Homo sapiens: one gene and its partner. The main gene of each other region encodes a partner of the protein of the gene in region 2 in a complex. Each region holds a gene or a part of one and is shown on either strand. Other genes may lie near its edges.

What was found. Proteins that work in one complex are often made in the same cells at the same time.
Region 1: the proteins of SLF2 (region 2) and SIMC1 are in contact, whole or in part, in a cryo-EM structure (PDB 7T5P), measured with the Homo sapiens proteins. Residues at the interface, in NP_060591.3 of Homo sapiens: His738, Val772, Leu775, Lys778, Asp783, Phe786, Gln790, Gly791, Phe792, Thr794, Ser795, Ala796, Tyr797, His798, Tyr799, Cys820, Ile821, Gln825, Ser828, Met831, Glu832, Ile835, Arg836, Asp838, Thr839, Ser841, Asp842, Ser843, Pro847, Lys919; in NP_001295125.1 of Homo sapiens: Tyr426, Arg428, Leu431, Lys435, Leu438, Pro440, Val442, His443, His444, Leu445, Phe447, Gln448, Arg470, Arg471, Phe490, Asp493, Pro497, Val521, Asp522, Lys525, Glu526, Tyr528, Met529, Met532, Lys533, Gln536, Leu537, Arg571, Asn658, Gln661.

Annotation. Positions count from the first base shown.
Region 1 is NC_000005.10:176,290,398-176,297,423, reverse strand, and holds part of SIMC1 (SUMO-interacting motif-containing protein 1), read right to left. Parts: coding exon 6,469-7,026; intron 2,395-6,468; coding exon 2,162-2,394; intron 1,174-2,161; coding exon 1,104-1,173; intron 1-1,103.
Region 2 is NC_000010.11:100,915,957-100,922,982, forward strand, and holds part of SLF2 (SMC5-SMC6 complex localization factor protein 2), read left to right. Parts: intron 1-42; coding exon 43-86; intron 87-613; coding exon 614-1,344; intron 1,345-2,427; coding exon 2,428-2,485; intron 2,486-7,026. UniProt on the Homo sapiens protein: Plays a role in the DNA damage response (DDR) pathway by regulating postreplication repair of UV-damaged DNA and genomic stability maintenance.

The DNA.
Region 1 (7,026 bases), on a different chromosome or scaffold from region 2:
TTCAAGCAATTCTCCTACCTCAGCCTTCCGAGTAGCTGGGATTACAGGCATGTGCCACCACACCCAGCTAAATTTTCTATTTTTTAGTAGAGACAGGGTTTCTCCATGTTGGGCAGGCTGGTCTCAAACTCCCGACCTCAGGTGATTTGCCCGCCTTGGCCTCCCAAAGTGCTGGGATTACAGGCATGAGCCACCACGCCTGGCCTCATTCAACTTTTTTAGACAATACATTCTGTGACTTTTTGCCTGAAGGTAGGTAACCTGGCTACTGATCCTTCTGCCCTCAGCAATGAAGAGGTTGGCTGTTCCATCCACAAACTTTCAATAAATATCCAATAGCCCACATCTGACTCCTGCCCTCTATTAGATATTGTGTTTCTAAATCCAAGACCTCTCTGGTGCTCTAAAGTGAAGATTCATCCTTCCTTGGCTGTAGCCTCTTTACATATATGTGGCTTTCTCTGCCCGGCTCATCAGTCATCACTCTTACATTCTCTGTAGGTCTCCCTAATCTTCATTCAAATCTGCTATCCTTCCCCTTTTTTCATAGCCATGAATTTATAACTTTCTCTATTCATTTACTATTATTTTTAATGGGATCTCAAGGAGAGGGATAAGTAAATATACTAAATCTTGAATTGGAAGATAGCACATACCATTTCAATAGGAATTTTTTGGCAGGGGTGGGAGAATCAGGAGGGAATAATGGTGTAGACTTTATTACCAGATTTACTGTCACTTTTCTTTTTTCTTTTAAGACAGGGTCTTGCTCTGTCACCCAGGCTGGAGTACAATGTTGTGATCATGGATCACTATAGCCTTGACCTCCTAGGCTCAAGCAATCCTCCTGCCTCAGCCTTCTGTGTAGCTGGGACCACAGGCATGCATCACTATGCCTGGCTAAATATTTTATTTTTATTTTTGTAGAGACAGGGTCTCATTTTGTTGCCCAGGCTGGCCTTGAACTCCTGGGCTCAAACTGTCCTCCTGCCTCGGCCTCCCAAAATGCTGGGATTACAGGTGTGAGCCATGGCACCTGATATCACTTTTCTTTATAGTTAAAACTTCCCCTACAGAAGATATAATCTTATAATTGTTGTTACCTCTTCCTCCATGACATAGGTGAGCAGTTTCCAGTCCCACTCCACTGTCTTGGCATTGGCTGGATGTAGCCTGAAAGTCAAGTGAAATCAATTAGAATTATGGAGAATTTAGCGGAAGAAGGGATAGGATCTGAAGGTGATAGAAGGAAGAAGCCTCTTCCTATCCTCCATTATCCTCCATGCTCTTGCTCACTTTCTGGTATCATACCATGTCAATCTGAGAGTAGTGGAACTTCATTGTTTTTTGCTACCCAGTATCCAGTCCCCTTTTGGAAAGCTTTAGTACTATAATTTTGTCTTAAGAAACCAACTCTTCACTACTCTTAACCAACTAGTTTTACCTACCAGAACCCCAAAATGAAGTATGTGGCTTTTTTAGCCAATCGTGCTGTTCTACCCCTCAGTTCACGGTGATTGGCTCAAAGATATGGTCATGTCTCTCATTAGGCCAATTAAATCCTGCAAGACTCAATTTCAGAACTCTTGGGTGACTATAAAGGAAGCAGACACTCTTTCCCACTGGAAGTGTCATAAAAGCCTGAGGCTGAGAGGCTACCACATGCAGCCCCAAAACAGAACTGAGGCTGAGAGGCTACCACATGCAGCCCCAAAACAGAACTGAGGCTGAGAGGCTACCACATGCGGCCCCAAACAGAACTGAGGCTGAGAGGCTACCACATGCGGCCCCAAAACAGAACTGAGGCTGAGAGGCTACCACATGCGGCCCCAAAACAGAACTGAGGCTGAGAGGCTACCACATGCAGCCCCAAACAGAACCGAAGTAGAGCTGCAGAATGAACCCTGGTAACCATTTTTGTATACTGAATCAAGTCACATCTCACTCCTCGGTTTCTAGTAACACGAGCCATTAAATTCTCTTTTAGCAGTAGTTAAGGTCTGTTTGGACTGGGTTTCCTATCATTTGCAATTCAAATAACACTAATATGCTAAGTCACCCACTGTAACGGTTAGGTTAAAAAAGCCTGTCAAGAGAAAGCTATGCCCTGAGTCCAAGATCCCTAGAAGATTCGCCAACAGCCAGAGGTTACGGTTCATACTGTTGAATTTTCATGAGAAGCATGTAGGCCTCCTTTAGGACATCCACAGTCTCAGAGCCACTGAGCAAGATTTTCTGGATGATGTGAGCCACGATTTCTCTTGGTGGGTAATGCTGGGGTGACACAAAGTCCATCAAAAACTGCACAGTCCCCAGAGGAAAATTCTCTTCAATGGTATTTGTTACCATTCTTAGTCTTCGATGAGGGATGGGTTCTAATTTTTGACCCTTGTTCTGTAGAGATTAAAAAGAAGGAAATTAGGAGGGATTTCTTTTCTTTTTTTTTTTTTTTTTTTTTTGAGACGGAGTCTTGCTCTGTTCCCCAGGCTGGAGTGCAGTGGCGTGATCTCAGCTCACTGCAAGCTCTGCCTCCCGAGTTCATGCCATTCTCCTGCCTCAGCCTCCAGAGTAGCTGGGACTACAGGCGCCCACCACCACGCCCGGCTAATTTTCTTTTGTATTTTTAGTAAAGACAGGGTTTCACGGTGTTAGCCAGGATGGTCTCAATCTCCTGACCTCGTGATTTGCCTGTCTCAGCCTCCCAAAGTGCTGGGATTACAGGTGTGAGCCACGGCGCCGAGCCGGGATTTCTATAGTATACAAAAATAAGAGGTTCTAGAATACGTTGAAGATAGCAAAGTTTTCCAGGCATTTGAAATATTTCATGATTAAAAAAAAAAAAAGAGGACGGGTGCAGTGGCTCATGCCTGTAATCCCAGCACTTTGGGAGGCCAAGGCAGGAGAACTGCTTGAGGTCAGGAGTTCGAGAGCAGTCTGGCCAACATGGTGAAACCCCGTCTCTACTAAAAATATAAAAATTAGCCAGACGTGGTGGCACGCAACTGTAGTCCCAGCTACTTGAAGGCTGAGACATGAGAATTGCTTAAACCCGGAAGGTGGAGGCTGCAGTGAACCAAGATGGCGCCACTGCACTCCAGCCTAGGTGACAGAGCGAGACTCCAAATCAAAACAGACAAAAAAGAGCTTTATCTAAAAAACTTTTAATGACATGGGAAAAAGCTCATATAAAGTTAAAAAATCAGAATTCAAAATTGTACATATAACATGATTTCATCTATGTTAAAATATAGCATAGACAGAAAAATACAAAAGGGTCAACAGGTAGCCTAGGTTGATTTTGGGGTGAGGGTAACTAGAGACTTAGGGATAGCTGTGATACTATATCAGATACCGAAATAGATAAGAAAGAAGTTTTAAATTCATTTTGTTGTTAGGAGAAGAATTCCATTTTTTTTTTGTGCGAACAGTAAATATTAAGTTGCTTCTTCCCCCAAAAAATATGTATATAAAGACTGCGAGAGAATATGTGAAAAGTGATTTTCTATTATGTGGGTGGTAGAATTAGTGGTGATTTTTTCTCTATGTGCTCTTCTATATTTTTCAATTTTTCCATAACACACTTATTACTTTTATAATTAGAATTAAACAATTTTAAAGTTTGATATGAGGGTTTAATAACAATAAATTTGGAGCTCTTAATTTTTTTTTTTTTTTTGAGATGAAGTCTGGCTCTGTCACCCAGGCTGGAACACAGTGGCATGATCATGGCTCACTGCAACCTCTGCCTCCCAGGCTCAAGCCATCCTCCCACCTCAGCCTCCCAAGTAGCTGGGACTACAGGTGTGTGCCACCATGCCTGGCTAATTTTTTTTAGTATTTTTAGTAGAGATGGGGTTTCACCATGTTGCCCAGGCTGGTCTCGAACTTGTGAACTCAAGTGATCAAGACTGTCTTGGCTTCCCAAAGTGCTGGGATTATAGGTGTGAGCCATCATGTCTGGCCTTAAACAATTAATTTTTTTTTTTTTTGAGATGGGGTCTCGCTGTGTCGCCCACGCTGGAGCACTGTGGCGTGATCCTGGCACACTGCAAGTTCCGCCTCCCGGGTTCATGCCATTCTCCTGCCTCAGCCTCCAGAGTAGCTAGGATATAGGTGTGTGCCACCATATTCAGCTAATTTTTGAATTTTTTATAGAGGGGGTTTCACTATGTTGCCCAGGCTGGTCTCAAACTCCTGGGCTCAAGCAATCCACCGACCACGGCCTCCCAAAATGCTGGGGTTACAGGCGTGAGCCACTGCGCCCAGCACTGAACACTTAATTGATCCTCAACTAGTTCTTACAATAATCTTAGGAAATACATACTATTATTATTCCTATCTCATAAATAAAGAAACAGATTTGGAGGGTAAGCATTTGTCATACAACAAATGGCAGAAGCTGGTTTCAAACACACGTGGCGTAAACTTCAGAGCCATTCTCTCAACCCCTACTCCCCATAAACAACAAAAATAATGTGTATATGTTAAAAATCCCAATTATTAAAATATGTAAAATGCCTATGTATAAAAAGGCAACTGGGAAGGAAAGACATCAAATTATTCACAATAATAAATGCTGTCTGGGCCGGGCGCGGTGGCTCACGCCTGTAATCCCAGAACTTTGGGAGGCCGAGGTGGGCGGATCACTTGAGGTCAGGAGTTCAAGACAAGCCTGGACAACATGGTGAAACCCTGTCTCTACTAAAAGTACAAAAAGCCGGAAGTGGTAGCGGGCACCTGTAACCCAGCTACGCGGGAGGCTGTGGCAGGAGAATCGCTTGAACCTGGGAGGCGGAGGTTGCAGTGAGTGAGCTGAGATCGTACCACTGTACTCCAGCCTGGGTGACAGGGTGAGACTCTGTCCCAAAAAAAAAAGAATGAGCTAGTGGTCAGGCAGAGGCATAAAGAAGGAGAAGACCTACAACATATTAGAAGATGTAATAATTTTAAAAAAGAGAAAAAAAATCATTCTCCAAGGTCAAATCAGTGTGAATCCTTGGCTCCTGCCTACCTGGATCACTGCTTGAATGAGGAGAGCATACCTTTTGACACTGAACTGTTTCAAGCTGGTTTTCTTAATATGGGGGATGGGATGTACATAACTAAAAAACACTTCATACGGTGGAACTTAGCCAGTTATTTTCCCTAACACATCTAGTTTACTTCTCATAAATCAATGATGACCAATGGAAAGGAGCATTCCCACTCATGTCTTAATATTGAATTTCCTCCCCCAAAGTCAGCAAGTAATAATTTTGGAGGCCCATAAGTGATAGAGTATTATTATCTCTGTGATATAGAAGCTGTAATAAGGGCACCAGGAAGGGAAAAGCATAGGAGTTGAAGATAAACATTTATTTATTTTTTTGAGACAGAGTCTTGCTCTGTGGCCAAGGCTGGAGTGCAGTGGTGCAGTCTCAGCTCACTGCAACCTCCGCCTCCCAGATTCAGGTGATTCTCCTGCCTCAGCCTCCTGAGTAGCTGGGATTACAGGTGCATGCCACCACATCCAGCTAGAAGATAAGAATTTACATAAGGCCTACGATGAGCCTGACACCCTGACACTTTCACGTATGACCCTGTGAGGTATGTTATTACTTCCATTTTACAGATAGGAAAGCTAAGGCTTAAAAAGGTAAAGTGCCCTGCTGGGCGCGGTGGCTCATGCCTGTAATCCCAGCACTTTGGGAGGCTGAGGCGGGTGGATTACAAGATCAGGAGATCAAGACCATCCTGGCTAACACAATGAAACCCTGTCTCTACTAAAATACAAAAAATTAGCCGGGCGTGCCAGGCGCGGTGGCTCACGCCTGTAATCCTAGCACTTTGGGAGGCCGAGGCGGGTGGATCACGAGGTCAGGAGATCGAGGCCATTCTGGCTAACACTGTGAAACCCCGTCTCTACTAAAAATACAAAAAATCAGCTGGGCGTGGTAGCGGGCGCCTATAGTCCCAGCTACTCGGGAGGCTGAGGCAAGCGAATGACGTGAACCCGGGAGGCGGAGCTTGCAGTGAGCGGAGATCGTGCCACTGCACTCCAGCCTGGGCGACAGAGCGAGACTCCATCTCAAAAAAAAAAAAAAAAAAAAAAAATTAGCCGGGCATGGCGGCATGCGCCTGTAGTCCCAGCTGCTAGGGAGGCTGAGGTAGAAGAAACTCTTGAACCTGGGAGGCGGAGGTTGCAGTGAGCCAAGATTGTGCCACTGCACTCTAGCCTGGGAGACAGAGCAAGACTCGGTCTCAAAAAAAAAAAAAAAAAAAAAAGTAAAGTGACAGTTTTTAAGCGTGGGGCTAAAATTTGAACCCAGATCTGGGCCTCTACACTGAATGGGTCTTCACAAGTGGAGGAAAGATAAGAAATTTCATTTATGCTTGACCTGTCCTCTCACGCATGGACTCCAGTCACACTGACCTTCTCCTAGGCCTAGGGAAAGGACACCTAATCCCTGAGGGAAGATGTTAGCTCACCTCTCTTGTGTCTTTATCCGGTATTAGCGTCTGAAAGAAGAGGTGATGAACCGGAGGACGTAAGAAGTACTTCAGTCTATGCAGGCATGGTCTGTTGTACAACCCACCTTGTGGTGTTCGTGATTGTACGTGGGCAGACCCAGGTTTGGCAGGCTCTGACAGTGATATTTCTTTTCTGGCTGGGGTTTCCATGACAGAGAGCCAAGGAACTTTCTCTAAGGGAGTTTCAGACTGTGGGCTGGGAGAGCAGCTTGGAGAGGACAGAGCTGAGATATCCATAGGCATGTCACGGTTCTGTACATCATTCTGGGTAAAGTCAGGCCTGTCTCCTGGTAAGTGAGGGATGTCTCTAGGTGAGTGTGTCACGTCCCCTGATGAGTGTGGCATGTCTCCAGGTGAATGTAACACATCTCCCGGTAAGTGTGGCATGCCCCCTGGTGACTGTGGTGCATCTGGTGACGGTGAAACATCACTTGGTGACTGTGGCACATCTCCTGGTGACCGTGGCATGTCTTGCAGGTATGCCACATCTTGTGGATGTAATATGCTTTGAGGCAG
Region 2 (7,026 bases):
AATATTTGCTTATATGATGCCATATTATGCTTTTATTTTCAGGAAGCAGTCAATTATAGATTTCTTCAAACCAGCTTCAAAACAAGGTATGTACACTGTTGATGCATTTTTTGTGGGCTATTTTGGGGGTGAGGAGAGAGACAGATTCAACTTTAAAACCTACTCTAAACTGTTTTAGTAAACGTAGTGTTCAAAATTGAAAATAAAATGAAGATGCAGTATTTTGTTTTACAAGGATAAACTGAAGTTCTAAATATGAAAGTCTTTTTGCTGTTATGTTTTCTTACATTTAAAATATTATTCTAGTAAAAAATTTAATGTTCATAATACATACTATTTTGATTCTCTAATACAGTAATTTATAGAGCCATAGGGAGGTTATATGATGTACCAAAAGAGAGCTTTATGAAACTAAGGCTTTTAACAAATAAATCATCTCTTAATTTCTCCTATACCCCCCAATAAAGTGTGTATCATTATCCAAGTTGTTGGTTTGAAAATTTTTGTGGTAACATTAGTATAGTTTAATTTATATTTTAAACATTAATAATTTAGATAAATATTAAATATTTTACTAACATGCAATTTGTATGTGTTTTAATTGGCTATTTAGACAGACACATGTTGGATTCACCACAAAAATCAAACATCAAATATGGAGGAAGTAGATTGTCTATCACTGGGACAGAGCAGTTTGAAAGGAAACTATCCTCACCAAAAGAATCTAAACCCAAAAGGGTGCCACCAGAAAAGAGCCCTATTATAGAAGCTTTCATGAAAGGTGTTAAAGAGCACCATGAAGATCATGGTATACATGAGTCACGTCGGCCTTGTCTGTCACTAGCCTCCAAATATTTAGCCAAAGGAACAAATATCTATGTTCCTTCTTCATATCACTTGCCAAAGGAGATGAAGTCACTAAAGAAAAAACATCGATCCCCAGAGAGAAGGAAGTCACTATTCATTCATGAAAATAATGAGAAGAATGATAGAGATCGAGGCAAAACCAATGCAGACTCCAAAAAGCAGACCACAGTGGCAGAAGCTGACATCTTCAATAACAGCTCCAGAAGCCTTAGCAGCAGGAGCAGCCTGTCCAGGCACCACCCGGAAGAAAGCCCACTGGGAGCTAAATTCCAGTTGTCACTAGCTTCTTACTGCAGAGAACGAGAACTAAAGAGGTTGAGAAAGGAGCAAATGGAGCAGAGAATCAACTCCGAGAATTCTTTCTCAGAAGCAAGCAGTCTTTCCTTAAAATCTAGTATAGAAAGAAAATATAAACCAAGGCAGGAACAAAGGAAACAGAATGACATCATACCTGGAAAAAATAATCTGTCAAATGTGGTATGTGTAAGAATTATTGAATTAGCATTGCTACTGCTATGTCATATTTAGAATACTAAATTTAAAAATATTTAAGAGTTGTTACATCACATTGACGTCTTTCCTGAAGGAAATACTTATGCACAGTTTGTGTAGAAGCTGGTTTCATTACATTTCCTCCAGTTGCCCTTCATCGAACTCAGTAAAGCAGTGTTTCTTATCCTTAGTTTTTTCAGACTGGGAACAAAGATCTTTTTTAGTCAGAAAAGTAAGCATTCTTTTTTTTTAAGGCAAGTATAGTCTTACTTATTTATGTGTAGACAGTCTTGCTCTGTTGCTCATGCTGGAGTGCTATGGCGTGATCATGTCTCATTGCAGTCTCAAACTCCTGGGCTCAAATGATGCTCTCACCTCAGCTTCCCAAGTAGTCGAGACTCCAGGTACCTGCCACCATATTTGACTAATTTTTGTATTTTTTTGTAGAGACAGGTCTCCCTATACTGCCCAGGCTGGCCTTGAACCCCTGGCCTCAAGCGATCCTCCTGCTTCCTGTACTTTGGGAGGCCTAGGTGGAAGGATTGCTTGAGCTCAGGAGTTTGAGACCAGCCAGAGCCACATATCGAGACCTTGGCTCTACTACAAATAAATAAATAAATAAATAACCAGTCATGGTGGCATGTGCCTGTTCTCCTAGCTACTTAGGAGGCTAAGGTGGGAGGCTCGCTTGAGCCCAGGAGATCAAGGTTGCAGTGAGTTTGATCACACCATTGCACTCCAGCCTGGGTGACAGAGCGAGACCTTGTCTCAAAAATACAGTGTTCTAATATAATATTCTTGAATTATTGATATAAACGTAAATCAGCATTTTGAAAACTGACTTCATTTTTATGATATTTTTACATGTTTATGATACAAATGCCCTTAATTTTTATGACAAAAACCTTAAGATCTTTAAATATTTTATTATAGACATTAGGATTTACCTCCAAATATGGGTGCTTGCCTTATTCAATCTAGAAATCTGTGTTTAAATGTTAGGAAGAATGCCTTCACATTCTTTACTGTCCCCAACACTTAATTAATTTTATCTCATTGTGCTCATAGGAAAATGGACATCTCTCAAGAAAAAGATCCTCTTCTGATTCATGGGAACCTACTTCAGGTAGAATCAAAATTAAATTTATGGATTTCTAAATAAATTTCCATTTTAATGGCACTGCTTTTTAAAATAAATTTGTTTAAATATGCAGTTCCCTTCTTGGGGATGAATTAAGTGTCTCATATTAATTAAGAGTTTGGTAAGATCATATTAAAAAAGACTAGTCCCTGAATCTAGTACTTATAATTTGGGTTTGTTTTTGAGACAGGGTCTTACTCTGTCACCCAGGCTGGGATGCAGTGGCATGATCACGACTCAACTGCAAGCCTTGACCTCCTGGCCTCGAATGATTCTCCCACCTCAGCTTCCTGAGTAGCTGGGACTACAGATGTGGGCAACTATGCCTGGTTAATTTCTTGTATTTTTGTAGAGACGAGGTTTCGCCACGTTGCCCAGGCTGGTCTCAAACTCCTGAGCTCATGAGCCACCACACCTGACCTAGTGCATATAATTTGTAATCTGTCTTGAATCTCTGCCCTCTTCAGGAGTTCCTAACAGTATGTTTCTCATACTGGTATTCAGTGTTTCCTTCTGAATCCTTGGCTACATCAGGAAACATAATCTTTTTTTTTTTTTTTTTTTTTTTTTTTTTGAGACAGAGTCTCGCTCTGTCGCCCAGGCTGGAGTGCAGTGGTGTAATTTGGCTCATTGCAAGCTCCGCCTCCCGGGTTCACACCATTCTCCTGCCTCAGCCTCCCAAATATCTGGGACTACAGGCGCCCACCACCATGCCCGACTAATTTTTTGTATTTTTAGTGGAGACGGGGTTTCACCACGTTAGCCAGGATGGTCTCGATCTCCTGACCTCGTGATCTGCCCACCTCGGCCTCCCAAAGTGCTGGGATTACAGGCATGAGCCACTGCACCGGGCCCCCAGGAAACATAATCTTATTATCTTGGAATTGTAGACTGAGTTGTTGGTATTATGTTGAAGATGCTTTGTATAGGGTTGAGACTGTTACCATGATAAAAAGCAGTGTTCTCTAATATTTCAAATCCAAGGATCCCTTTTTAATATTAAATTTCAAGGATATCTACATGACATTAGTTTGTACTTTTAGCATTTATTGATTGAAAAAAATATAAAATAACAAATCTGTTAATTCAGTACATTTTATCTTTTTTTAAAACTAGAAAATAGAAGATTAAAAAGGCAAACACTGCAGAAGTTTGCAACAAGAAATGAAAGGTCTCCACAACTAACAACAGTTAATAGTCTAGTGTATCCGATTTTTTTCCTGATGTGACTATACATTTTGAAAAACAAATTCCCACATTCAGTAAGATACATTGGACACGATAATAATAGCTGGCTTTCATTGAGTACTTACTGTGTGCTATGCCATTTTATGTGCTTCTAATTCGTTTGAACCTCATAACTTTATATGATAGTGGTTTACTTTTAGAGATGGAAAAGCCAAAGTACAGAGAGTCAGTTCTAATTCCTCCTTCAGGTTTCATCTACTTCATTTTATTTATATTTTAGAGGTGCATTGCATTTTGACCAAGAACTCTCAACTGGTAAAATCAATCTTCAGCCAAGGCTGAAACCATATTTTACCATTATAGAAGGAACTTCTAGGATACAGGAATAAATCTAAAGTTTTGTGTGTTTTTTGTTTATTTAATTTTTATAATGTTGCTGATTTTATGACCAAATTTTAGTGAATTTTGACATTATTGTAGAAGAACAGGAATTTCTCAGCCAGGAGATTGCTTCTGCACTCACTGTATTGCACATTTTTAATACTAAATACATGATCACCTTGCACCAAAGTTAATGGAAGAACAAAATATTATTTTATATAAGGGGCTGCTGCTGGTGGTGTGGCTACCACATTATTCCTTTTCTTTTTTCTCTGACTTAAGATTTGAAAAAATCTTTTCATTTCCTGGATTTGCAAATTTCATTCATGGTGGCTAAAGTAGTTTCATTTATATAATCCCACCTAGCAAAGTTTTTGAGTACTGCTTGGAAAAGATGCTTTCTACATATTTTCAGAGGCTGACTTATGATGGTTGCCGTCACTTATATTTTTATTACCAATATTTTTGCATGTGTTTCATAATCACTAATAATTATAGCATTATACTCTTAATAAATATACATTTATACTTCAATTGACTAACATCAACAGAATTTCAACATGTAAAGGACAAGGGGATATTTCAATCTAGATAGCATGAAGAATGCTTATTGTGTCTGATAGCAAAATTATTAAAAATCTAAGCCAGGCGCAGTGGTTCATGCCTGTAATCCCAGCACTTTGGGAGGCCAAGGCAGATGGATCACCTGAGGTCAGGAGTTCGAGACCAGCCTGGCCAACATGGTGAGACCTCGTCTCTACTAAAATTACAAAAATTAGCTGGGCATGGTGCCCAAGCCTGTAATCCCAGCTACTCAGGAGGCCAAGGCAGGAAAATTGCTTGAACCTGGAAGGTGGAGGTTGCAGTGAGCTGAGATGGTGCCACTGCACTCCAGCCTGGGTGTCAGAGCAGGACTCAATCTCGAAAAAAATAAATAAATAAAAATAAAAATCCAAATGATATGTCTTGTTCATCTTGTTAATACACTTAATCAATTGTCATGGTAATGTACATAATCACGCAATCATTAATCACATACAAGTTCAGGGATTTCAGAAGTAATGTTAGACTAGGCATTTAGCCCTTTGGTCTTCTAGAGCCCTGTCTTTTGGCTGAATTGTGAGGGGAAATTTAATCCATTGCTAGTACATTTCGTAACTGATTAATAACCAATCACCTATTAATGGCCTTTGGATTTTTCCTTTTTCTTGAGATGGAGTCTCACTGTCTCCTAGGCTGGAGTGCAGTGGTGAGATTGTAGCTCACTTGCAGCACTGAACTCCTGGGCTGAAGCAATCCTCCTGCCTCAGCCTCCCAAAGTGCTGGGATTACGGGCGTGAGCCACCATGCCCAGCCTCCTTTTTTTCTTTTTACAAACTCAATCTCTCTCTTATATGAATATTTTATGTATTAGTATATTTGAAATATTTGAAAAACTGTAAAACAAATATTCTCTACAGGCTGACAAAGGATACAAAAAGAATTATGAACATTTTGCAATTAATCACCTGACCTGAAGAGCTTGCTAAAGGGGATCCTACCTGCAGTACCAATTCACTTTTCTCTAATTCTAGATGATGAAACCCCTTAATAAGCTGACTTATCCTAAACATCTTCCACAAACAGTGTTTGTCTCCTCCTGGATCAACCCTGAATAATGCCTGAGCAAAGCAGGAATTTCTCCTCATTTCTAGCTATATTTAAATTATCTGACTTCTCTAGAAAAATGGAACAAAACTCAAACTGGCAGCTCTGTAGCTCATTTTTTGTAATCCCATACTTAAAAGTAAGATAATGAGCCAAATCTTCTCTTTTGTTTAGTCATTTAATTTCTCATCCTGTTACCCCTGTCCTTTTTGTAAGACATTTAACCCCAGAAAACTGAATAGGATGGAATGATTTCCTCAGGTAATGGGAGATATCTGTAAAAGAGCAGAGATAAGGGCATTTGTTAATTAGTTAATTTAATTTTTATAAATTGAATTTTTCAGATTATATATTGATCAAGCTATCCAAATAATAATTGCCTCTCAAGTTTGGTTTTGGCGGGTTTATTTTATTTTATTTACTCATTTTGATTCAAGGTCTTACTCTGGTGCCCAGGCTGGAGTGCAATGGCACAATTACAGCTCACTGTAGCCTCACGGGGCTCAAGCAGTCCTCCCACCTGAGCCTCCAAGTAGGTGGGACTACAGGCACATGCCACTGCACCCGGCTAATTTTTGTATTTTTTGTAGAGACTATTTCACCATGTTGCCTAGGCTGGTCTCAAACTCCTGAGCCCAAGTGATCCTCCCAAAGTGCTGGGATTACAGGCATGAGCCACTAGACATGGCCAAAAGATAAGAAATTTTCTAACTAGAGAAGGGATTGACGGGGTTGTACTTTTCGCAGAGGCAGGGTTTCACCTGAGCTCACGAACTCCCACCTTGGCCTCCCAAAGTTGTGGTATTACAGGCATGAGCCACTGTGCCCAGCCATTTTAGGTTTTTAAAGCAACTCTTGGGGAATGGAGACATCTGTCCATGTGCAGAAAATTTGATTTAGGGAAATCTGGTTTGGGGAATACTGATTGCACAAATAGTGAATTTTTTGTGTTTTTTTTTGTTGTTGTTTTGTTTTTTTGAGTTGAAGTCTTGCTTTGGTACCTAGGCTGGTCTTGAACTCCTGGGCTCAAGTTATCTTCCCACCTCAGCCTCCTGAGTAGCTGGGACTATATAGGCACACACCACTGCACCAGGTTAAAGTGAATTTTTTTTTTTTTTTTTGAAACGGAGTCTTGCTCTGTTGCCCAGACTGGCGTGCAGTGGTGCCGTCTTGGCTCAGTGCAACCACCACCTCCCAGGTTCAAGCGATTCTCCTGTCTTGGCCTCCCAAGTAGCTGGGAGTACAGGCACGCACCACCATGCCTGGCTAATTTTTGTATTTTCAGTAGAGACAGGGTTTCACCATGTTGG